2 separate regions of the Homo sapiens genome follow, and region 2 is linked to region 1. Evidence: fine-mapped expression QTL. Tissue or cell type: whole blood. Region 1 holds a variant in brackets; the other region holds the start of a gene. All regions are shown on one strand. Distances are from middle to middle.

Region 1 (12,586 bases):
CAGAAGCAGAGACTTTAGGTTGAGCATTTCTTTCCTCCTCCCACCTACACCCGACCCCCCTGTTCCTAGCAGTTTATGGGAAGACTGCACCCTAAGTCCAATGTTGAGGCCAGGGTGGGGTTGGAAACTTGGGAGAGGTCTTGAAGAGTAAGAACCAGGGATAGGAACCCCACTCCTCTTTGTTGGAGAGAGGCAGAGCCTGGAACTTGGAAACTCTCTGTGGTGCCCTGTGGCCATGCAGGGCATCACATCACATGGTCAGGGGACTGCGCTTGCTAACATGCTAATTCAGGTTTATCTTCTTATAAAGCTATCAGTTCCCCTCTAACCATTAATTATGAATGAATTAATCCATTCATGAGGGCGGCCCTCAAGATCCCTATCATCTCTCGCTCTGTCGCCCAGGCTGGAGTGCAGTGGCGCTATCTCAGCTCACTGCAATCTCCGCCTCCTGGGTTCAAGCAATTCTCCTGCTTCAGCCTCCTGAGTAGCTGGGACTACAGGTGCCCACCACCACGCCCAGCTAATTTTTGTATTTTTAGTAGAGACGGGGTTTCACCATATTGGCCAGGCTGGCCTGGAACTCCTGACCTTGTGATCCGCCTGCCTCGGCCTCCCAAAGTGCTGGGATTATAGCCGTGAGCCACCACACCCGGCTCCTATCATCTCTTTTTATTTATTTATTTATTTATTTATTTATTTATTTTTTATTGATCATTCTTGGGTGTTTCTCGCAGAGGGGGATTTGGCAGGGTCATAGGACAATAGTGGAGGGAAGGTCAGCAGATAAACAAGTGAACAAAGGTCTCTGGTTTTCCTAGGCAGAGTGTGTGTGTCCCTGGGTACTTGAGATTAGGGAGTGGTGATGACTCTTAACGAGCATGCTGCCTTCAAGCATCTGTTTAACAAAGCACATCTTGCACCGCCCTTAATCCATTTAACCCTGAGTGGACACAGCACATGTTTCAGAGAGCACAGGGTTGGGGGTAAGGTCATAGATCAACAGGATCCCAAGGCAGAAGAATTTTTCTTAGTACAGAACAAAATGAAAAGTCTCCCATGTCTACTTCTTTCTACACAGACACAGCAACTATCCGATTTCTCAATCTTTTCCCCACCTTTCCCCCTTTTCTATTCCACAAAACCGCCATTGTCATCATGGCCCGTTCTCAATGAGCTGTTGGGTACACCTCCCAGACGGGGTGGTGGCCGGGCAGAGGGGCTCCTCACTTCCCAGTAGGGGCGGCCGGGCAGAGGCGCCCCTCACCTCCCGGACGGGGCGGCTGGCCGGGCAGGGGGCTGACCCCCCACCTCCCTCCCGGACGAGGCGTCTCGCCTGGCGGGGGGCTGACCCCCCCACCTCCCTCCCAGACGGGGCGGCTGGCCGGGCGGGGGGCTGACCCCCCCACCTCCCTCCCGGACGGGGTGGCTGGCCGGGCGGGGGGCTGACCCCCCCACCTCCCTCCCGGACGGGGCGGCTGGCCAGGCGGGGGGGCTGACCCCCCCCCACCTCCCTCCCGGACGTGGCGGCTGGCCGGGCAGAGGGGCTCCTCACTTCCCAGTAGGGGCGGCCGGGCAGAGGCGCCCCTCACCTCCCAGACAGGGCGGCTGGCTGGGCGGGGGGCTGATCCCCTCACCTCCCTCCCGGACGGGGCGGCTGGCCGGGCAGAGGGGCTCCTCGCTTCCCAGTAGGGGCGGCCGGGCAGAGGCGCCCCTCACCTCCCGGACGGGGCGGCTGGCTGGGCGGGGGGCTGACCCCCCCACCTCCCTCCCGGACGGGGCGGCTGGCCGGGCGGGGGGCTGACCCCCCCACCTCCCTCCCGGACGGGGCGGCTGGCCGGGCGGGGGGCTGACTCCCCCACCTCCCTCCCGGATGGGGCGGCTGGCCGAGCAGAGGGGCTCCTCACTTCCCAGTAGGGGCGGCCGGGCAGAGGCGCCCTCACCTCCCGGACGGGGTGGCTGGCCGGGTGGGGGGCTGACCCCCCACCTCCCTCCCGGACGGGGCGGCTGGCCTGGCGGGGGCTGACCCCCACCTCCCTTCCGGACGGGGTGGCTGCCGGGCGGAGACGCTCCTCACTTCCCAGACGGGGTGGCAGCCGGGCGGAGGAGCTCCTCACTTCTCAGATGGGGCAGTTGCCAGGTGGAGGGTCTCCTCACTTCTCAGACGGGGTGGCCGGGCAGAGACGCTCCTCACCTCCCAGACGGGGTCGCGGCCGGGCCGAGGTGCTCCTCACATCCCAGACGGGGCGGCGGGGCAGAGGCGCTCCCCACATCTCAGAGGATGGGCGGCCGGGCAGAGACGCTCCTCACTTCCTAGATGGGATGGTGGCCGGGAAGAGACTCTCCTCACTTTCCAGACTGGGCAGCCAGGCAGAGGGGCTCCTCACATCCCAGACTATGCGCGGCCAGGCAGAGACGCTCCTCACTTCCCAGACGGGGTAGCGGCCGGGCAGAGGCTGCAATCTCGGCACTTTGGGGGGCCAAGGCAGGCGGCTGGGAGGTGGAGGTTGTAGCCGAGATCACGCCACTGCACTCCAGCCTGGGCACCGTTGAGCACTGAGTTAACGAGACTCCGTCTGCAATCCCGGCACCTCGGGAGGCCGAGGCTGGCGGATCACTCGCGGTTAGGAGCTGGAGACCAGCCCGGCCAACACAGCGAAACCCCGTCTCCACCAAAAAAATACGAAAACCCGTCAGGCGTGGCGGCGCGCGCCTGCGATCGCAGGCACTCGGCAGGCTGAGGCAGGAGAATCAGGCAGGGAGGTTGCAGTGAGCCGAGATGGCAGCAGCACAGTCCAGCTTCGGCTCGGCATGAGAGGGAGACCGTGGAAAGAGAGGGAGAGGGAGAGGAGGGAGAGGGAGAGGGAGAGGGAGAGGGGCTCCTATCATCTCTTAAAGGTCTCACCTTTCTCGTTTTTTTTGTTTTTTTTTTTGAGATGGAGTTTGGCTCTTGTCACCCAGGCTGGAGTGCAACAGCATGGTGGCAGGGTCTCGGCTCACCGCAACCTCCACCTTCCGGGTTCAAGCGATTCTCCTACCTCAGCCTCCCAAGTAGCTGGGAATACAGGCGCCCGCCACCATGCCAGTTTAATTCTCGTATTTTTAGTAGAGATACAGTTTCACCATGTTGGCCAGGCTGGCAAACTCCTGACCTCAGGTGATCTGCCCGCCTGGACCTCCCAAAGTGCTGGGATTACAGGCATGAGCCACTGTGCCTGGCCAGCCTCACCTTTCTCTTTTGCTCTCAGTCTTCTAGGCCCCTTCCCTCTTTGGGCCCTATCAAGTTGTTGAGAGTTGTTGGGTGGGGGATGGTGTCACTCCGGGACTGGGTAATAAACCCTTTTCTCCTCTGATCACTGCTAACAAGGTGTGTCATATTTGAGAGGTTTGTTTCTGTCTCTTTGTATATGAGGGGTCTGGGTTCTCAGTTTTGCTGACCATATGGAACAGTTCTAGGGCTGTGTGACAGGATGTGACCCAGGGCTGGCAGGCTGCAGGGACATGAGCTGTGGAAATTGAGAGGGCAGAGAGCAGAATGGGCTGAAGAAGTAGCTTTCAGTATTTATTGAGCACATACTATGTGCTAGGCACAGTTCCAGGTGCTTTCCGTGTTCTTACTCTTTTCCTCCTCACAATAACCCTGTGAGGTCGGCTTTAGCCCCATCTTACTGATAAGGAAACTGAAGCACAGAGAAGATAAGGAACTCACCCTAGCTCATACGGCTTCTAAGAGGCAGGGTAGGATTCAGATGCACGGCTGTTTGACCAAGAGCCTGGTGTCCTTCTACACCTCTATGCCATCAAGCTTATGAAGTCCAGAGACAGAATGCTTGTGGAGAAGAGGAACTAGACTTTGGACACTGGATAGAATTCAAGTTGGGGGCATGCACGGTGGCTCACATCTGTAATCCCAGCACTTTGGGAGGCTGAGGTGGGCGGATCACCTGAGGTCAGGAGTTTGAGACCAGTCTGGCCAACATGGTGAAACCCTGTCTCTACTAAATATACAAAAAATAGCCGGGTGTGGGGGCGTGCACCTGTAATCCCAGCTACTTGGGAGGCTGAGGCAGGACAATTGCTTGAACCCGGGAGGTGGAGGTTGCAGTGAGCCGAGATGAGATGGTGCCAGTGCGCTCCAGCCTGGGCGACAAGAGCAAAACTCCGTCTCAAAAAGAAAGGAATTCAATTTGTTCTCAAGGGTCAGGGAGAATGGAGGGTGGGGTACCTTCCAGGTAGGTAGGGGAGTGGTTTGGCCAAGGGCAGGGAGGTGGGAATGGTGTATCGACAGCACAGGGAAGTCTTGACTGCAGAGGTGAGTCCTTCTAGAAGAGGTTCATATAAGATGGAAAAAGCAAGGTCAAGTTTGAAGAACCCTAACTGCCCAGAAGGGTTTGGACTTGATTCAGGAGGCATTAGGGAGTCTTGCAGGTTCTTGGGCTGGGAAGTGACATGATTAAAGTGATTCACCTGGAAGTGAATTCATACAGGAGGAATTCGCTGTAAGGAGGCAAACTGGGAATCTGTGCATGTCAGTGAGTCAGTAGCAGAGGCGGGCTGACATAGCCCATGCTATCATAGGACCTGCAGTCAGCATGGGGCCCGACGTTCAGCAAGAGTGAGCACTGGCTGGCCATGGTGCTCACGCCTGTAATCCCAGCACCTTGGGAGGGGCTGAGGTGGGCAGATGCCTTGAGCCCAGGAGTTTGAGACCAGCCTGGGCAATGTGGCAAAACCCTGTCTCAAAAAAAAAAAAAAATTGTGGCCAGGCGTGGTGGCAAGCGCCTATAGTCTCAGTATTCCAGAGGCTGCAGTGGGAGGATCACTTGAGCCCAGGAGGTCAAGGCTTCAGTGAGCCGTGATCGCGCCACTGCACTCCAGCCTGGGTGACAGAGTGAGACCTTGTCTCAAAAACAAAACAAAAGAAAACACTAGTATTGTGCAGGGAGTGGCAGGAGCAGAGGGAGCTGGAGTAAGGCAGGGCTTCTTGGAGGGAGAGACATTTGATCTGACTCCTGAGGGACAAGCAGTAACTGTCCCAGTGATGAGAGAGGTGGAATATCTTGAAGGAATAGAGTCTATGAAATGGAATATATCTGAGAAGTAGCCTGAAGAGAAATGGGTGAAATTTGCTCAGCAAAGTGAAGTGACATCATGGAAAGCCTGCTGGGTTGGCAGACCACATGGTGACCTCAGAAGGTTTTCTTTCCCATGTACCTGGGCCCAGAGCCAGCTGACAGGAGGTAAGGAAGGAAGGGCTGGGTGAGGAAGCAGAAGCAGGAGGTGTGGGTTATGGCCTGAGGGCCCAGCAGGAGTGCTCAGCTGACTTTTTCCCAAGATGGACCAGAAAATGCTTTTCAGGCTGGGGGACACATGCACACTCACACACATCAAATCATCTCTCTACTTCCATTAAAACATATCTTTGTATTTTCAGATTTCAAAAATAATACATGTATAAAACACTTAAATTACAGAATGATTTAACATACAGAATAAAAATCTCCAGTAATTTGGCCAAGTGTGGTGGCGCATGCCTGTAATCCCAGCAGTTTGGGAGGCCGAGGCAGGAGGATCACTTGAGGTCAGGAGTTCAAGACCAGCCTGGGCAACATGGTGAGACTTTGTGTCTACTAAAAATTTAAAAATTAGCCAGGTGTGGTGGTGTTCACCTGTAGTCCCAGCTACTCGAGAGGCTAAGGTGGGAGGATCACTTGAGCCCAGGACTTTGAGGCTGCAGTGAGCTATGATGGTACCACTGCTCTCCAGCAGAGTAAGACAGAGTGGGAGGCTGTTTCTAAAAACACAAAACAAAAAACAAAAAAACCTCCAGTAATGACTGTTAATAATTTAGAGTATATTCCTCCAGATTTATTATATGTGAACACTAATTTACATATATATTTTTCCTTTTTTTTTTTTTTTTTTGAGACAGGGTCTCGCTCTGTCTCCCAGGCTGGAGTGCAGTGGCACGATCTTGGCTCACTGCAACCTCCACCTCCTGGGCTCAAGTGATTTTCCCACCTCAGCCTCCCTAGTAGCTGGGACTACAGGCATGTTTCAGTACATCCAGCTAATTTTTTGTATTTTTGGTAGAGGTAGGGTTTCATCATGTTGCCCAGGCTGGTCTCGAACTCTTGGACTCAAGTGATTTCACCCATCTCAGGCTCCCAAAGTGCTGGGATTACAGGCGTGAGCCACTGCGCCAAGCCTACCTTACATATATTTTAAAATAGAGCATGTCTATATATGTGTGTGCATTTTATTTTTTTTAAATTTTAGACAGCGTCCCGCTCTGTCGCCTAGGCTGGAGTACAGTGGCTCAATCATGGCTCACTGCAGCCTCAACCCCCCAGGCTCCAGTAATCCTCCTACCTCAGCCTCTGGAGTAGCTAGGACGACAGGCACCCACCACCACACCCAG[C/A]CAATTAAAAAATAAAATTTTGTAGAGACAAGGTCTTCCTATGTTGCGTAGGCTGGTCTCAAACTCCTGGGCCCAAGCGATCCTCCCACCTCGACCTCCCAGAGTGCTGGGATTATAGGCATGAGTCATTCCATCTGGCCCTTATATAATTTTTTAAACAAAACTTCAAAATACATGAAGTTAAAACTAATGGAACTGAAAGGAGAAACAGATAAATCTACCATTATGGCAGGAACTACCACTACTCTCTCAATAATTGATAGAACTAGTGGACAGAAAATCATGAAGGATATAGAACACCTAAATAGCACCAGCAACCAACTTGACCTAATTTATCTTTAGGGTACACTCCACCCAACTACAGCAGAATACATATTCTTTTCAAATGCCCATGGATCATTCACCTTAAAATAGACAACATTCTGGGCCACAAACACAAACCTTAACAAATTTAAAGGAATGGAAATCACAGAAAACATAGCCTATGTTCATAACATTATTAAATTATAAATCAATAACAGAAAGACATCTAGCAAATCCCTAAATATTTGTTTCTGTTTGTTTTGAGATAGAGTCTCTCTCTGTCGCCCAGGCTGGAGTACAGTGGCGCGATCTCGGCTCACTGCAACCTCCGCCTCCCGGGTTCAAGCAATTCTCCTGCCTCAGCCTCCCAAGTAGCTGGGATTACAGGTGTGTGCCACTATGACCAGCTAATTTTTGTATTTTTAATAGAGACAACGGGGTTTTACCATGTTGGCCAGGCTGCTCTCAAACTCCTGACCTCAAATGATCTGCTCGCCTTGGCCTCCCAAAGTGTTGGGATTACAGGCATGAGCCACAGCGCCAGGCCACAAATCCCTAAGTATTTGGAAAGTAAAACAATGCACTTCTAAATAACCCATAGACCAAAGCTAAAGTCATAAGTGAAATTGAGAAATATTTTGAACTAAAGGAGGATGAAAACATATCAAAATTTGTGAGATGCAATGAAGTAGTGCTTAGGGGGAAACAGAGCATTAAATACCTAGATTAAAAAATAAGAGGCCAGGCGAGCAGGCTCACGCCTGTAATCTCAGCACTTTGGGAGGCTAAGGCAGGCGGATCATTTGAGGTCAACAGAGTGAGACTCCATCTCAAAAAAAAAAAAAAAAAAAGAAAGAAAGAAAGAAAGAAAGAAAAAGAAAATAAGAAATATCTCAAATCAATAACCTAAACTCCTGCTATAAGAAACTAGAAAAAATGAGCAAATTAAACCCAAAGCAGACAAAAGGAAGGAAATAATAAAGATAGAATAGAAATCAATGAAATTGGCCAGGCTTGGTGGCTCAGGTCTGTAATCCCAGCACTTTGGGAGGCCAAGACAGGTGGGTCACTTGAGGTCAGGAGTTCGAGACCAGCCCGGCCAACATGGTGAAACCCCATCTCTAATAAAAATACAAAAATTAGCCGGGCATGGTGGTGCACACCTATCGTCCTGGCTACTCGGGAGGCTGAGATGGCACAGCCGCTTGAACCTGAGAGACAGAGTTTGCAGTGAGCCGAGATAGCACCACTGCACTCCAGCCTGGGTAACTGAGTGAGTCACTCAAAAAAAAAAAAAAAAATCAATGAAATTAAGAACAAACAGTAGAGGAAATCAATGAAACGAAAAGCTAGTTCTCTGAAAAAAAATGAGTAAAATTTATAAACCTTTGGTCAGACTGACCAAGAAAAACAGAGAAGAGACACAAATTATAAATAACAGAAATGGAAGACATCACTACAGACCCTAAAAACATTAAAAGAATAACAAAGGAATACTACAAACATAAATACCCATACATTTGACAACTTAAACGAAATGGTAAAATTCCTATTGGCAGGGCGCGGTGGCTCACTCCTGTAATCCCAGCACTTTGGGAGGCTGAGGCAGGCGGATCGCTTGAGGCCAGGAGTTTGAGACCAGCCTGGCCAACATGGTGAGACCCTGTTTCTACTAAAACTACAAAAATTAGCTGGCCGTGGTGGTGCGCCCAGCTACTTGGGAGGCTGAGGCAGGAGAATTGCTTGAGCCTGGGAGGCAGAGGTTGCAATGAGCTGAGATCGCGCTACTACACTCCAGCCTGGGCAACAAGAGCAAAACTCCACCTCAAAAAATAATAATAATAATTAATTAAATAAATTTAAAAGTAAAATAAAGTTCCTATACGTCAGGATAAAAAAAATCCTATCATCTGTGCTGTGTGGGAATTTTTTTTCTTTTTTCTTTTCTTTTGAGACAGGGTCTCACTCTGTCATCCACGCTGGAGTGCAGTGGAGCAATCATGGCTCACTGCAGCCTCAACCTCCTGGGTTCCAGTGATCCTCCTGCCTCAGCCTCCTGAGTAGCTGGGATCACAGGCATGAGGGCACTATACCCGGCTAATTTTTGTATTTTTTTGTAGAGAGAGGGTCTTGCTATGTTGCCCAGACTGGTCTCAAACTCCTGGGCTCAAGCAATCCCGTTGCTTTGGCCTTCCAAAGTGCTGGGATTATAGGCATGCGCTACCACACCCAACCCATATATAGTTTTTTAAACAGAGTGAAAGACACAAACAGCCAAATTCACTCAAAACGAAATAGAGGATTTCAACTGGGCAAGGTGGCTCACGCCTATAATCCCAACACTTTGGAGTTGGGATTATAAGCCCAGGGGTTCAAGATCAGCCTGGGCAACATAGCAAGACTTCATCTCTTAAAAAAAAAAAAAAAAAAAACAGGAAGAAGAGTTTCCAGTCTAACATGTAAAGAGCTTGGAAATCACCTCTACATTCAAACAAGTAAAAAGCTGAACAAACTGAAAAATCAACCCTTCTTAGATCCATCAGAGAAGTGGGGTCACACAGCAAATTGCTATGCCCTAAATTGGTGAGACAGTCAGATAAAATCACAATTTCTTTTTTTCTTCGACAGGCTCTTGCTCTGTCTGGCGTACAGTGGCAAAATGATAGCTCACTGCAGCCTCAAATACCTGGGCTCAAGCGATTCTTCCATCTCAGCCTCTCTAATAGTTGGGACTACAAGCACGAGCCACCACACCCAGCTAATTTTTCAATTTTTGGTAGAGATGGGGTCTCCCTATGTTGTCCAGGCTGGTCTTGAACTACTGGGCTCAAGCAATACTCCTGCCTCAGCCTCCCAAAGTGCTGGGATTACAGGCATAAGCCACCACGCCCAGCCTGAGAATCACAGTTGATGGGAGCAGAAACTCACAAGCAGTAACCTCCACAGGAACCAGTGCCAGGGTAGAAAAACCTGAAGTGTAATTGACAAATTGCTGTAGGCTCAATGTGAGCAACTCAGAAAGTTAAAAACTGCAGGGGGAGAGGGTCAGGGGTTAGTGAGGCGGGAAGTGAGCGTAATAAAGTTTCTCTAGGGAGGCAGAGCCAGGGGAGAAAGTTGGAGTGGTGACCTAAGCAGGCAGTGGTGTGATCTGGAATCAAATCGGCCTGTGGTGCGGTGCGGAGACTCCATGAGGCCCTGCTTTGCTCTTCCTCTTGGCCCTGCTCTATGTCCGCTGGGACCACTTCCTTCCTGTCCTCACTTTGCTAGCTCCAATCCACAGCTGTTGTAGCAGAGGATGCTAATGGCCCAGGCTCACTTCCATGGGCTATATGGAGGTCCTGCAATCAATGCGTGCCCTCGACTTCAACACCCAACTCAGGTCACGCAGGGAGGCAGGCCATCAGTCTGGTGTGTGATGCTGTGCTGGGTGTGAAGGGGGTGACAAGGAAGAGAAAGCCCTGTAGCTGCCTGCTCAGCTCTATCCTGGGAAGGAGTAACCTGAAATTTGCTGGAATGCCAATCACTCTCACCGTCTCCACCAGCAGCCTCAACCTCATGGCCGCAGACTGCAAACAGGACACAGCTGAGGATGTTGCCTACGTTGCCAAAGACCCTGTGAATCAGAGAGCCTGCCACATTCTGGAGTGTCCCAAAGGCCCTCCCAGGATGTCATTAGCACCATTGGCCAGGCCTTCGAGTTGTGCTTCAAACAATACCTCACGAACCCACCCCAACTGCTCACCCCCAAGACAGGATGGCTGGCTTTGATGGATCAGCTTGGGATGAGGAGGAGGAAGAGCCACCTGACCATTAGTACTATAATGACGTCCCTGGGAAGGAACCTTCTCTTGGGGAGTTGGTAGACATGAGGCTTCGGGAAGGAGCCACTTCAGAGGCTGCTTGACCCACTCCACCCAGTGTCTGGACCCCCAGCCACTTGGGAGCTACACTGCCTGTGGGATAGCCTGCTGGGGGAGATCCAGAAGTCCGCAAACAGATGCCACCTCCACCACCCTGTCCAGCAGGCAGAGAGCTCTTCAATGATCCCTATATCAACGTCCAGAACCTAGACAAGGCCCGGCAAGCAGAAGGTGGTGCTAGGCCCCCCCATCCTGCCATCAATCGCAGTGCACCCTGGGACCTCTTTGACATGAAGCCCTTTAAAGATGCTCTTTGGGTGCCTCCCCCTCCCCAGTGGTTTCCATGGCTGAGCAGCTCCAAGGGGAGCCCTGGTTCCACGGGAAGCTGAGCCAGCGAGAGGCTGAGGCATTGCTGCAGCTCCATGGCGACTTCCTGGTGCGGGAGAGCATGACCAAGGCCAGTATGTGCTTACTGGCTTGCAGAGTGGGCTGCCTAAGCACCTGCTATTGGTGGACCCTGAAGGACTGGTTTGGACAAAGGATCACTGCTTTGAGAGTGTCAATCCCAGCACTTTGGGAGACCAAGCCAGGCAGATCACAAGGTCAGGAGATCGAGACCATCCTGGCTAATACGGTGAAACCCGGTCTCTACTAAAAATACAAAAAATTAGCTGGGCGTGGTGGCAGGCGCCCGTAGTCCCTACTCAGGAGGCTGAGGCAGGAGAATAGTGTGAACCCAGGAGGCGGAGCTTGCAGTGAGCCGAGATCACGCCACTGTACTCCAGCCTGGGCAACAGAGCGAGACTCCGTCTCAAAAAAAAAAAGAGAGTGTCAGTCACCTCATCAGCTACCACATGGACAATCACTGGCCTATCATCTCTGTGGGCAGTGAACTGTATCTACAGCAACCTGTGAAGTGGAAACTGTGATCTGCCCCAGCGCCCTCTTCCAGAAGATTCCACCCTATTCCCTAACTCTCGGGACCTCATTTGGGAGTGTTCTGTGGGTTTGGCCTTGTGTCAGAGCTGAGGGTAGTGTGGACACTGGGTTTAGTATCCAGCTAAGTGAGAGAGTTTGAGTCAGAAGCCTGGGGGAGAATCTTGCTTCTCCCCAAACATTAATCACCCGAAGTATTAATGGACAGAGTGGCCCCTTACCTACGCCTTTCCTGTGCCAACCCGATGTCCCTTCCCCAAGAAGGTGAGTGCTTGTCATGGAAAATGTCCTGTGGTGATAGGCCCAGTGGAGCAGTCACCCTTCTGGGCAAGGGGGAACAAATCACACCTCTGAGCTTCAGGGTACCCCAGACACCTCTCCACAACCCCCACCCCATGTTTAAACTTTGTGCCTTTGACCACCTCCTAGGTCTGAAGATATTTTATGCAAAGAGTTCGTGCCAGATGTGGTGGCTCACACCTGTAATCCCAGCACTTTGGGAGGCCGAGGCGGATGGATCACTTGAGGTCAGGAGTTCAAGACCAGTCTGGCCAACATGGCGAAAACCCGTCTCTACTAAAAGTACAAAATTAGCTGGGTGTAGTGGCATGCACCTATAATCCTAGTTACTAAGGAGGCTGAGGCAGGAGAATCGCTTGAACCCGGGAGGTGGAGGTTGCAGTGAGCCAAGATTGTACCACTACACTCCCGCCTGGACGACAGAGTGAGATTCCATCTCAAAAAAAAAAAAAAAAAGAGTTCATGGGTCCCTGAATTCAATGACAGTGATGCCGACACCTTCTTGGCTTCTGAGACCCTGTTTTCTCCTTGCTCAGCACCCTCTCTGGTTTGGGTTGGGAGAATAGAGACAAGAATGGCATATATCCCCTCTCCCTGGGGATATGCAACCCTTAGAGATTGTCCCAGAGCCCCCCTCCCAGCCAGGGGGAAGATGGACCTGTCCCTTGCTCAGTGCCTCCTGGCCAGAGCCCCTCAATCCATTTCATAAACCCTGCCCTCCCATGATGCATGCCTATTGTACTCTATAGCCAAAATGTAGCCCTTC
Region 2 (12,586 bases), 36 kb before region 1:
CAAAAAATAATAAAATAAAGAAAGGGGACACATTCCTCTTTACCCCTTCCTCCTACCTGCAGAGCAAGACTCTGTCTCAAAAAAAACAACAAAAAAAATAGAGACAGGGTCTTGCTATGTTGCCCAAGCTGGTCTCAAACTCCTGACCTCAAGTGATCCGCCTGCCTTGGCCTCCCAAAGTGCTGGGATTGCAGGTGTGAGCCACCGCGCCCAGCCAAGAAATAAACTTCTATCTTGCTTAAGCCACTAAAATTTTGAGTTTTCTCTCGCACACAGTCTGTCTTGATTTTCTTTGCCACAGCGAGAGTGGCTGGGGTTTTTGTCCAATTGGGTGATGAAAGAAGGCCTTAGAAGGCCTTTTGCAGGGGTAATATTTGACCTGAGACTTGCCTGGTGAGAAGGAGCCAGCCATGGGGAGATCAGGGAGGAGCATCCCGACAGGATGGCACTCGTGCTTTCGAGGAACAGAGGAGGTGAGCAGAGGGCAGGAGTTGCCCGGAGTAGGGAATGGGTGTGGGGAAGTCACAAAGGATTTTACACTCAGGATGATATCCTCTGATTTATGTTTCTAAAAGGTCACTCTGACTGCTGTGTGGCAACCGCATTGTAGGGGGCCTAAGTGAAGCCAGGAGGCCAGGTGAGAGACTCCTGGGGTGACGGAGGAGCATGATGAGGGGCCCGGCGGGTGGGCAGTGGAGATGGGGAGAAGAGGATAGAAGCATGAAGCTAGATCCAGTAGAATGAGCTGTTATTGGAAGTGGGGATTGGGAGTGAGGGAAAATTAAGAGTCAAGGAAGCAACTGGGTTTGGGGATTTGAGGAACCAAGTGGATGGAGAGGACTGGAGGAGGCTCAGGGTTTGTTTCTTTGCTTGCTTGTGTTTAGGGAAAGGATTCGAATAAAATAAGACTGTTAATGTATCACTTGTTTGACCTTTCTCAAATATTAGTTTTCTTTTCTTTTTGAGGCATGGTCTTGCCCTGTCACCCAGGCTGGAGGGCAGTGGCACTATCTTGGTTCACTGCAACCTCCACCGCTCAGGTTCAAGCAATTCTCGTGCCTCAGCTTCTCGAGTAGCTGGGATTACAGATGTGTGCCACCATGCCTGGCTAATTTTTGTATTTTTAGTGGAGATAGGGTTTCACCATGTTGACTATGCTGGTCTCGAACTCCTGACCTCAAGTGATCTGCCCGCCTTGACCTCCCAAAGTGCGGGGATTATAGGCATGAGCCACTGCATCCAGCCCAAATATTAGTTTTTTCACCTATACTTTTGGCAGTGGGGTAAGGGACAGAATTTTTTTTAATAGAGACAGGGTTTCACTGTGTTGCCCAGGTTGGTCTCAAACTCTCGGTCTCAAGTGATCCTCCTGCCTCAGCCTCCCAAAGTGCTGGAATTACAGGCATGTGCCACTGCACCCGGCAAAGGGACGGATTTTTGTATTGATTTCATTCAAGTCAACAAACTCATATAAACTATCAACTACCGGCAGAGCCCTGGTCAGGTTTAAGGACCTGAGTGAGGGTCCTTGTCCTTGGGAACATGATCTGTGGAGGAGACACACAGGACCATGGACCATCTCAGTAGGGAGCAGAGAGGCAATGACACAGGTAGGTGCTGGGCTGGGACCTGTCAATCTCCAGGGGTTGGAAGGTTGGCGGGAGAGAAGGAATTCACAGAGCTGGGAATGCAAACAATGAACCTTGAAGGTCAAAGCTTTGGTCCAGCAAGTTTGGAAAGGAAAGGCATCTCAGGACAAGGGAACAGTGCATGGAAAGATCCAGAAGCCAAGAGAACAGAGAACATTCAGAGAAAGGTGAGTGTCAAGACTCAGAGAGCTCACAGCCTGCCTTGAGCCCCTCAAGCAGATCCTCCTCCCAGGACACCCCCGCACACTGAACTCTCTGCAGAGCCAAGCTGACCCCACAGCTCTCCAAACCTGCCCTTGTTTTTGTTTTTTAAATTATTGAATTTATTTATTATTATTTTTTGAGATAGGGTCTTCCTCTGTTTTACAGGCTGGAGTGCGTGGTAGGATCTCAGCTCACTGCAACCTGGGCTCCGCCTCCTGGGCTCAAGTGATTGTCATGCCTCAGCCCTCTGAGGAGTTGGGATTACAGGCATGCGCCACCACACTCAGCAAATGTTTGTGTTTTTAGTAGAAACAGGGTTTCACCTTGTTGGCCAGGCTGCTCTCGATCTCCTGACCTCAAGTGATCTGCTTGCCTCAGCCTCCCAAAGTGCTGAGATTACAGGTGTGAGCCACCAAAATAGTTATTTATTTTCTTTATTAGAGACAGGGTCTCACTCACTCAGGCAGGAGTGCAGTGGTGCCATCATAGCTCACTGCAGTCTTGAACTCCTGGACTCAAGCGATCTTCCCATCTCAGCCTCCCAGGTAGCTAGGGCTACAGGCCTGTGTCACCACACTTGGCTAAAAAGGTAACTTTTTTTTTTTTTACTTTTTGTAGAGATGGTGTCTTGCTATGTTGCTCAGGCTGGTCTTGAGAACTCCTGGCTTCAAGGAATTCTCCCACCTTGGCCTCCCAAAGTGCCGATTACAGGCCTGAGCCATCACACTGGCCCAAACCTGCCCTTTGACCTCCCTCCTCCTCCCATTTGGAGAAACCGCCCCCATCCTTCAAAGTCCTGCTGGAACTCCCACTTCCCCTCTTCCTCCTCCTCAGCTCTCAGGGGACCCTGCAGAACTCCCAGCGTGTATCTCTGGAAGGATGCTCAGGGTGAGTTATTTTTGCACAGATCTGGCCTGGCTGCCCCTAGACAGTAGAAACCGCCTTCCTCCCAGGACTCCCCAGGGCCCAGCCGAGGGTGCTGGTGATGAGGGTCACGGGGCACAGGGTTCTGAGGGTAGGGGGACTGGACTGGCTCAGCTCTGAGAGCCTTTCCAGTTCCAGCCCCATCCCCCAGCTCTCCCGCCTGATTCCCCGCACCTCCCCACTCCCTCACCAGGTGATAATGATGACTGGTCCATTCCTAACGTGTGTGCACCCTGCCCCACTTCCATCCACCCCCAGACTGCTCAGGGCTGCACCTCACAACTCTGGGCCCTCCACCAGCATGGTCTCCCTGGGGACCTCACACTTCCCGCATTACTTGTCCCTCCGGGCCCATCCCTTGTTTACATCCCTTATCCTCCCTCTGAGGTTTGTATACACTCCCTGCTGGACATGAACTCCTATCGCTGCGTGGTCCCTGCCCTGCTGCCTTGGCTCAGGCTGCCTGATACACGAGCCCCGTGGCTCCTTCTCCCGTTCACTACTCAGCCCCTTGCCTGCATCTAGAGAAGACTATTTTCAAGCTCTTTCCCACCTGTCATCCCATGTGGTCACAACAGTCCAGAGAGGAAAAGGAAGTCCAGAGAGAGGGTGTGGTCAGCTCAAGATCACACAGGGCTTCCAACCCGAGGAGGTCCTCTACAGCCCACATGTCCCAGCCGTGGGACACTTCCCTTTAATGCAAAATCCCAGGGGTCTGAGTCCCTAGTCTATGAGGGCACAGAAAGCCGTATCTTCACCGAGCAATGTACATAGGTCCCTCCAGGCCACCTTGGCCAGACCACGTCCCCTCCTCCAGCCTCCTGGCTCCAGCCACCACACCTCCCTTCAGGTGCTCCCCCGTGCCATCTGGATGTCCACTCACCTTAGCTGCCACCGCAAACCATGGCCTGCTCTGCCCCAAACATGGTCTCAGACCCTCCCCTCCATCCGCATGGGGTAACAGAGGCAGGTGATCCAGTCCAGCAAGCTTTGCTGAGGACTTCAGGATAGCAGCTGAGAATTACCGGCTGAGCATGGAAGAAAAGATGTAAGGGTCTGCTCACATGGAATGGGTCTGCCCTCAGCAGTCACAGGCCAAGCTGACACCTCATTGCCAATCCCATTGCAAGAGACAGTTCCCTTAACCATCATCGAACCCCCGTCCTACCTAGTCTCAGCTTCTACTCCTTAGAGTAAGATAGAGAAAGCAGCTGGCCCTTCTAAGGCCACTACCCAGTCCTCACTTCTCACTTGAGGGCTGACTGCATCCAGGATGATTGAAAATGAGAAAGTAAGGCCAGGTGCAGTGGCTCACACCTGATATCCCAGCACTTTGGGAGGCCGAGGTGGGAAGATCACTTGAGGCCAGGAGTTTGAGACCAGCCTGGGCAACATAACAAGACCCTGTCTACAAAAAATACGAAACTCGCTGGGTGTAGTGGTGTGCGCCTGTAGTCCCCGCTACTCAGGAGGCTGAGGTAGGAGGATTACTTGAGCCGGGGAGGTGGAGGTTGCAGTGAGCCGAGATCACGCCACTGCACTTCAGCCTGGGTGACAGAGTGCGATTCTGTATCAAAAAAAAAAAAAAAAGAAAGAAAGAAAGAAAGAAAGAAAGAAAGAAAGAAAAAGGAAAAAGAAAATGAGAAAGTCTTGTCCTTTCAGAAGAACTCCACCCTCTGCCCACAGAGTCTCCCTCTGGGACAACCCATCCCAACCCGTGATCTGAGCTGTATGCTCTGAAATAACATCATACGGGGTTCGCCCTCAGCTCACTTCATTCCTGCTGACATCTGCCTGGGCTCCCGGCTTTCTCCCAAAGGAGTATAAATTTGAACGAGGACACATATGGACCTTGGGGAGGGGAATCTGAGGGCTCCTCCCTTAGTGCTCTAGGAAGTGGTAGAGCAGTAGTGACAAGAGGGACTCCAAGGAAAGAGCAGGATGGGCTGTGAGTGTGTGAAGGGCCACTCAGGGCACAGCTCAAGGCATCTTGGGGCTCTGCTCAAGCCCTCCAGGTGCCAATCTTTCTGACCACGACCATCTCTGTCCAGCCCGGGGCATAGTCAAAGGGAGGTAAGACTCCCTCGTGCCTTGCTTCCCCAGAGGGCAGCCTAGTGCCAGGCGCATGGAGGCCTTCAGATGAATCAAACTGACCCAAGTCCAAATTGGAATAAAATGAGTGAGGGTTGCCCTCACCTCTTCCTGGAAAAGCATAAACAAGAGTAAATGTGGGCCAGGCAAGGTGGCTCACACCTGTAATCCCAGCACTTTGGGAGGCCGAAGTGGGCAGATTACTTGAAGTCGGGAGTTTGAGACCAGCCTGGCCAACATGGTGAAACTCTACTAAAAATACAAAAATTAGCTGGGTGTGGTGTTGGGCGTCTGTAATCCCAGCTACTCAAGAGGCTAAGGCAGGAGAATCACTTGAACCCGGGCGGTGGAGGTTGCAGTGAGCTGAAATTGAGCCACTGCATTCCAGCCTGGGCGACAGAGTGAGACTCCATTTCAAAAAAAAACAAAAAACAAAAGAGGCCTGACACAGTGGCTTATACCTGTAATCCCAGCATTCTGGGAGGCAGACGAATCATCTGAGGTCAGGAGTTCAAGACCAGCCTGGCCAACATGGTGAAATCCCATCTCTACTAAAAATACAAAAAGTAGCCCGGCATGGTGGTGGGCGCCTATAATCCCAGCTACTTGGGAGGCTGAGGCAGGAGAATCGCTTAAACCCAGGAGGCGGAGGTTGCAGTGAGCCGAGATTGCGCCATTGCACTCTAGCCTGGTCAACAAGAGCGAAACACCGCCTCAAAAAAAAAAAAAAAAAAAAAAAAAAAAAGATTAAATGTGACATTGGGCAGAGTTAGAAAAGAAACATCTACATTCAGCCAGGGCAACAAGAATGATCTAGAACATGTGGTGTGAGTGGAAAGAACCAGCGTCCAAGCTGCTGTGCCTCTGCCTGGCTGTCTGGTGGGGCTGCCAGGGGGTGGTGCCTGCAGAACAGCCAAACAGCTGGCCAGATTTTCCCCCTAAGCCAGATGATGCCATTTGTTGTTCCACCCCCAGCCAGCTGTCAGTCCTTCCCGGGCCCCAGGAGAGGTGCCCCATTGCTGCCCCCTGCACTCAGCTGTCTCTGACTCCTAGGGCAGGCAGAGGGGCAAGGGGACTGGGCACACTGGCTGGGTCAAGGAGTCAAAGGTCTTCACTTGGCACTCACTGCCACAGGCCATAGGAAGCCAACCCAGTGTGGGCCCAGGGTTTGGGACAGATCCCACCAGCTGGAGCAGGAGAAGGCACCTCCAGCCCCCTTTAGCCAGGGCCTCTCTCTGTTCCTGACCGGCACCAAGGCCTGGGTGGTGGGAGGGGCTCAGATCTGGCAGAACACCAGCTGTCCAGGCAGATTAGCAGGTCGGAGTGCCCACGCTGGCTTCACCAGCCCAGAGGACTTGGGCAAGTCACTGCTCTCCTTTTGCTGCCCTTTCTCTGTGAGAGGTGAATAAACATCGTAAACAGTGTTGTCCTCAGATGGGCTTAGAGAGCTTGGCAAGCTAGAGCGTGTGAAGTCCAGGCATGGTGCACTGCACGGGGCAGGTGCTGGTCCGTTGGGCATTCTTTTTCCTGGGAAAGCCTCTCTGTGGCTTTGTTTCCTCCTCTGTGAAGTGGGGGGTTTGTAGGAATCCAGCGTGACCACAAGATGAAGGCCTCAGCATAATTCCTGGAACCGAGGTCCTCCATAAACAGGATTCTGCCTCAGGACCCGTGTCCCTCCCCTTTTCTCTCTCCACAGGACTCAGCCCCTGGCAGGCTTGTGGTGCAGATAGTGAATGGTCTTGCAGTGGCGGGATTTGTCCACCTGTGTGTCCCTGTGTTTGAGTTTCTTCTGCTTGAGTCTGAACTTCAGGCTGGTGGCCACATAACCCAACACTCTCACTTTACGGATGAGAAAACAGAAGCCCAGAGAGGGCCAGGGACTTGTCCAGGTTCCTTCAGCCAGTCCATGCCGGAGCTGTACTAGGACACCCTCCTCTCTGTGCCCAGAGCGATGGCCACAACACCCCTTTCTGTCTGCTTGAAAACCCCTCTTCATTCTTGCTGATCTGTACTCATCTTTCAGTCTCTGCCTCTTTAGCAACCAGAGCCTACGAAGAGGTGACCAGGCTCTGGTCACCCCCCAGAGCAGAGAAACTGGGGGTGTAGGGGTGGGAACTGAAGGGGAGGGGCATGGCAGGGGCTGAGAATGCGGCTGTTCTGGCCTGGGGGCCTGAGCCAGGCTGCCTACAGAGGAGCCAGTATGCCCAGACATTAGAGCTTTGTGAGTTGAAGAGCTTGGTGTGGGGATGGTTGTTTTGTTGAGCTGACATTGTTTCAGGTTGACTGAATGTCAGTGTCTTAGTGTCCAGGAGCCAGCTCTTTAGAACCAGCCAGGGTCTTGGGGAGAATGTGGCTGGGGCATCCTAGTCTGGATCAAGGAGGGGAGGGGGCTGTCCGTGCCCCGTGAGTGCTGAGCAGTTCCCTGTGGAGAAAACTGCAGAGGAGGAGTGAGTCCTAGCGTGGATACCAAGAGAGACGAGAGGAGCAGGCGCCCTTGCACCTTGGGGCCAGAGCAGAAGGGCCTGGCCAGAGTGGAGGATGGACAGAGGCAGGACAGGGACCTCTGGAGGCTGGTGCCTTCCTGCCAGGGCACTGGGAGCCCTGAGGACAGAGCGATCAAACCTTCATCCACAAAGGAAGAGTCAGGAGAACCATGGGGACCAGGAGGGCCCCGAGAGGCCTTGGGGGCTGGCCAGGCGGGTGGGGTGGGCCAGACTCACAGCTGTCCAGATGTGGGTAAGAGATAACTCTGTTTACTGGGCACCCAGTGGGAGCGGGGTGGGGGGTGTGGGAAGGGGCTCCCAGGGCCAGTGGGGCGGGCAGATTAGGAGGCGGGGGCATGAGTCAGGGGTTTGCGAGCTGCCCCTGGGGCGCTGGTGCTGTCAGAACGAGTGGGAACGTAGCTGGTCGCAGAGGGCACCAGCGGCTGCAGGACTTCACCAAGGGACCCTGAGGCTCGTGAGCAGGTGGGCAGGGCAGGGAGGGGCTGGGGATGGTCCTTCGGTGCCTGCCCTGAGGGCTTCTACAGGTGCCCAGCCTGAATCTATGCCCAGGTGGGCCAGGCTCCTGACCTCCAAGGGGGTGCAGGTGGGTGGGGTGAGAATGTTACCATGCATATGTTGCCCCTAAGGGAACAGGCCCATTGGCACCTGAAAAGAGGAGGGTGGCAGGTGGTCAATGGCAGCAGAGGTATGTGTGGCTCCGGTGCGTGTGTTGCGGGGGGTATCTGATCCCCTCCAGGTATGGGCCCTTGTCAGCTTGTTGGATCCCACAGGGTCAGGTCTTGTCCACCCCAGACTCCTTCCTTCCTAATGGGGTCCTCAGACCACCCCCTCTCCCACCTAGGAGGCAGGATGTCAGCTGACACAGTATCCCCTTTGGGACACTTCCAGGGGTCTACCTGGGGCACCTGGCTCCACGCCCAGCGTGGTCAGTATTGGAGGGAACTGCAGAGCCTCCTACCACATGAGAATCTCAAAACACTTAGCTCAGGCTAATTCCATGGGAACTGAGGGCAAATCAGAGGGGAAATGAAGATGGCAAGTCTGACTGTAACCCCAGCAGCAAGGGATAATGACAGCAAACATTTTCATAGCGCTCCTTATATGCTAGGCACTGTTCTAAGCCCCTTACAAATGTAAATTTCCTTAATGCTTACAACAGGTCTATGAGATGGGCATCATTATCATCACCCCCATTTTACAGATGAGAAAACTGAGGCACAGAGAGTTGAAGTCACACGCCGTTAGTAAATGGCAGGGCTGGGCTTTGAATCCAGGCAGTCCGACTGCAGAGTCCGTGATCTTAACAACTAACTCTAAACCAGCTAACAGTTGTTTTGTTGGAGGCAACTTAGCATAGTGCTTAGGGATGTGGCTGGAGTCAGGTAGTCCAGGCTGTAACCTGGCTCTGATACCTACCTGCTGGGTGGCTGAAGCAGGTAAATGTCTCTGAACCTCAGCTTTCGCATCTGTAGAATGGATTAATGACATTACTCTTCTTCCTCTTAGAATCCCCAAACCACTTCACAGAATGCTTTGGGGATTCTAAGAGTTAAGGCAGTACAGTTCTTTGTGCAGTTCGGGCTGATTACACAAAGGTGGTGCCATACCACTAGGAAGTTGTCCCTGTCATCTGGTCAATCCCCTCTCCCGCCGTGTCTTCCCAGCTGTGCTATACCTTCTAGGCTCAGATGTCCCGCTCACCCTTATCTGGCCTGGCCCTGGCCAGCTGGCTAGCTGGCCAGGTGTTTGGTGCACTTCCAAAACTTGGGGCAGCGATCTGGGTCCAGGCCCTTATCAGTGCTAGGCAGCACAAGGCCTGCAGCTGGGGGGCGGCCTGGCTGGCGGGTGGCAATCTGGGTCATGGGTGCGCCCTGTAAGTCTCCAACTGAGCTCAAGGCACCTCTGTTTTCCCCTCTTCTCTCTCACTGATGTCTCAGAACCCTGGCAGGAAGGCACTCCCATTGTACAGATGGGGTGACTGAGGCCTACAGGCTGGAAGCTGCCCAAGGCCCTTCAGCCAGTCAGTGGCAGAGAGGCAGCCTGGACCTCTGGATTCTGCAGCTCTGAGGGCCCCTCTGACCATTCCACTCCTCAGATAGGCAACCAAGGCCACAGTCCCAGCCCCATGGGTGGGACTTTTAGTACCTAAGGCTTAGACACCCTGGAGGCCTTAGCATCTGAGGCCTAAGAAAGTGCATGGGCAAGTCCAGAGAAGGAAGAAAGTGAATAAAGATGGAAGAGAAAGAGGAACTTTGGGAGAAGCAGAGAGGGAGGAGGAAAAAGAGAGAGAAGAGGTGGGTCATCAGGGTCCTCAGGAGCAAAGCCAAGCCCTGCAGTAGGGACTACCTCGTCCTCAGGTCCAGGACCCCTCCCCCGCACCCCATCACTTGCCCCACCTGCCAAGGCAGGGGTCTCTCCCATTCTCCAGTCTGGTGAGATCCAGTAATCCCCTCCCTACCCCCAGGACTGCAGGGTCACCCATTCCTCAGAAAGAAGGCTGTTTGCACATCCCTTTCTTTCTTTTTTTTTTTTTTTTGAGACGGAGTCTCGCTCTGTTGCCCAGGCTGGAGTGCAGTGGCGCAATCTCGGTTCACTGCAACCTCTGCCCCCTGGTTCAAGGGATTCTCCTGCCTCAGCTTCCTGAGTAGCTGGGATTACAGGCATGCGCCACCACGCCTGGCTAATTTTTGTATTTTCAGTAGAGATGGGGTTTCACCATGTTGGCCAGGCTCCCTGCCCCATGCCCTCACGTGGCATTTTCCCACCTTGCTCAGCCCACCTGTTCAGCTCCACCCAGGCATGCCTCACATCTGGACTCCCAGCCCTTCACATCTCACCAGTGCTTGGCTGGGCACGGTGGCTCACACCTGTAATCCCAGCACTTTGGGAGGCCGAGGTGGGTGGATCACGAGGTCAGGAGATTGAGACCATCCTGGCTAACACAGTGAAACCCCGTCTCTACTAAAAAAATACAAAAAATTAGCTGGGCGTGGTGGCGGGCGCCTGTAGTCCCAGCTACTCGGGAGGCTGAGGCAGGAGAATGGCGTGAACCCAGGAGGCGGAGCTTGCAGTGAGCCAAGATCGCGCCACTGCACTCCAGACTGGGAGAGAGAGCAAGACTGTGTCTCAAAAACAAGAAAAACTCACCTGTGTTTTTAGGCTAGCGCCAGTGACCCCTCCTCCGGTGACTCCACCCCCGAGTGCTGCAAACGCGTCCTGCTCTTCTTCCTGCCATACAGATCCTTGGCACTCAGCACTTTCGGCCCCTGGGGTCCATGTCACCTCGGAAGCACTGAGGCTGCCCTGTGTTCCCAGTTTGCCTCCCTGTCGCGGCTAGGAGCTTCCCCAGAGTAGAGACGGGCCTTGTTCAGCTCAGCACCCCCTCCCACCAGCCCCCAGTGCTCAGCACCCCCTCCCACCAGCCCCCAGTGATCAGCAGCCCCTCCCCACAGCCCCCAGTGCTCGGCACCCCCTCCCACAGCCCCCAGTGCTCAGCACCCCCTCCCCACAGCCCCCAGTGCTCGGCACCCCCTCCCCACAGCCTCCAGTGCTCAACACAATGCCAGGCACAGAGTGGGAACCTTTGTTGAACCGACCCAATTGCCTGTCACCTCAATGCCCTGTGCTGTAGTGGGCGAGGAGGGAAAAGAGGCACCTCCACACCCAGTCTGGGGCCACCTTAGGTGACCCCTGTCCTCCCCTTGGACCTGCCCTCACATTCCTGGGGAAGGCACACCTTCCTCTCTGCTAGGGACACAACTGAGAAAACTGAGACCCCGAGCTCAGAGGCCTCTTGGCTGGGGCCTAGTCATCCTGGCTCCCCAGTCTCAGAGCCCCAACCCCGCAATAGGGAGCCATTCTTACAATCATTCAGTAAATGTTTATTGAGCACCTACTACGTGACAGCCACTCTGCTAGGAGTAGTGAATTTCGTGGGGATGGGACATACAGGGTCTTCGCACTCAGGTAGTTTCCCTTCCAAAAGCATTGTCAGATAATATGAACACAAATCAATCAAGAAACCACGTATTGGTTTTTTTGTTTTGTTTTGTTTTCCTTCTAAAGAGTCTCACTCTGTCACCCAGGCTGGAGTGCAGTGGTGCCATCTTGGCTCACTGCAACCTCTGCCTCCCAGGCTTAGGCAATCCTCCCACCTCAGCCTCTCAAGTAGCTGGGACTACAGGTATACGTCACCACACCCAGCTAATTTTTGTATTTTTGTAGACATGTGGTTTCACTATGTTGCCCAGTTGGTCTCGGACTCCTGAGCTCAAGCAATCTGCCTGCCTCAGCCTCCCAAAATGTTAGGATTACAGGTGTGAGCCACCACGCCCAACCAAGAAACCATTTAAAAATTAGTCAGGCATGGTGGTGTGTGCTAGCTACTCTGGAGGCTGAGGTGGGAGGTTCACTTAAGTCTAGGAGTTTGAGACTGATGTGAGCTGTAATCATGCCACTGCATTCTAGCCTGGATAACAGAGGGAGACCCGCTCTCAAAAAAATAAAAAAGAAGAAAGAAATCAGCAGCCCACACTGAGATAGTGAGACCCTGTTTCTACACACAGATTTTTTTTTTTTTAATTACCTGGGCACTGTGGCATGCCTATAATTCCAGTTACTCAGGAGGCTGGGCCAGGAGGATCCCTGGGGCCCAGGAGTTCAAGGCTGCAGTGAACTATGATCATGCCACTGCACTCTAAGCCTGGGTGACAGAGTGAGACTCTGTCTCAAAAAGGAAGAGAGAGAGAGAGGAAGGAAGGAAGGAAGCAGGGATGGAGGAAGGAAGGAAGGAAGGAAGGAAGGAAGGAGGGAAGGGAGGGAAGGAGGGAGGGAAAAGAAACCAGAACATGACAGATTGGGTCAAGGTGGTGGCCAGGGAGGGCCTCTGAAGAGGAGACATTTGGGCCGAGATGTGAGAAGGTCTGAGGTATTGGGGGGAGGGTGTCCGGGATATGGACAGCTGGATGTGCAAAGGCCCTGGGACAGGAAAGGGCTTAGTGAGTTCTAGGAACCACAGGAGGCCAATAGGCTAGGTGGGGAGAGAGCGAGAGAGACGGAGTGCAAGATGGGGTCAGGGAGAGAAGTAGGACCACATCGTCCAGACCTGCGGACCACTCCCAAGGATGCTGCAGCCCATGCCCGGTGGGCAGCAGCTATTTCTGAGAGAAGAGCATGTGTTTAGAGCCCCTCAGGGGAGCTAAGCCCCCCTGAAGA

Evidence for each region. PIP is the estimated chance that this variant, and not a neighbour inherited with it, causes the effect. A credible set is the group of variants that fine-mapping cannot tell apart.
Region 2: SLC4A1 starts here. The variant in region 1 is the best candidate, but not a certain one, in a credible set for the expression of SLC4A1 in whole blood (INTERVAL, PIP 0.88).

What each region holds. Positions count from the first base shown.
Region 1 is chr17:44,227,687-44,240,272 of GRCh38, reverse strand. It overlaps the pseudogene SHC1P2. Among named protein-coding and RNA genes, the nearest start is that of UBTF, 14 kb to the right of the region's middle. RefSeq lists an enhancer at 1,891-2,522 and silencers at 4,426-4,626, 4,926-5,126. The variant C/A (reference allele first, on the strand shown) is at 6,422.
Region 2 is chr17:44,263,302-44,275,887 of GRCh38, reverse strand. SLC4A1 (solute carrier family 4 member 1 (Diego blood group)) reads left to right here and starts at 7,753. Exons shown (of 20, transcript NM_000342.4): 1 at 7,753-7,834. LOC105371790 (a long non-coding RNA gene) reads left to right here and starts at 207. Exons shown (of 4, transcript XR_934778.4): 1 at 207-473; 2 at 576-637; 3 at 1,493-1,610; 4 at 1,710-1,853.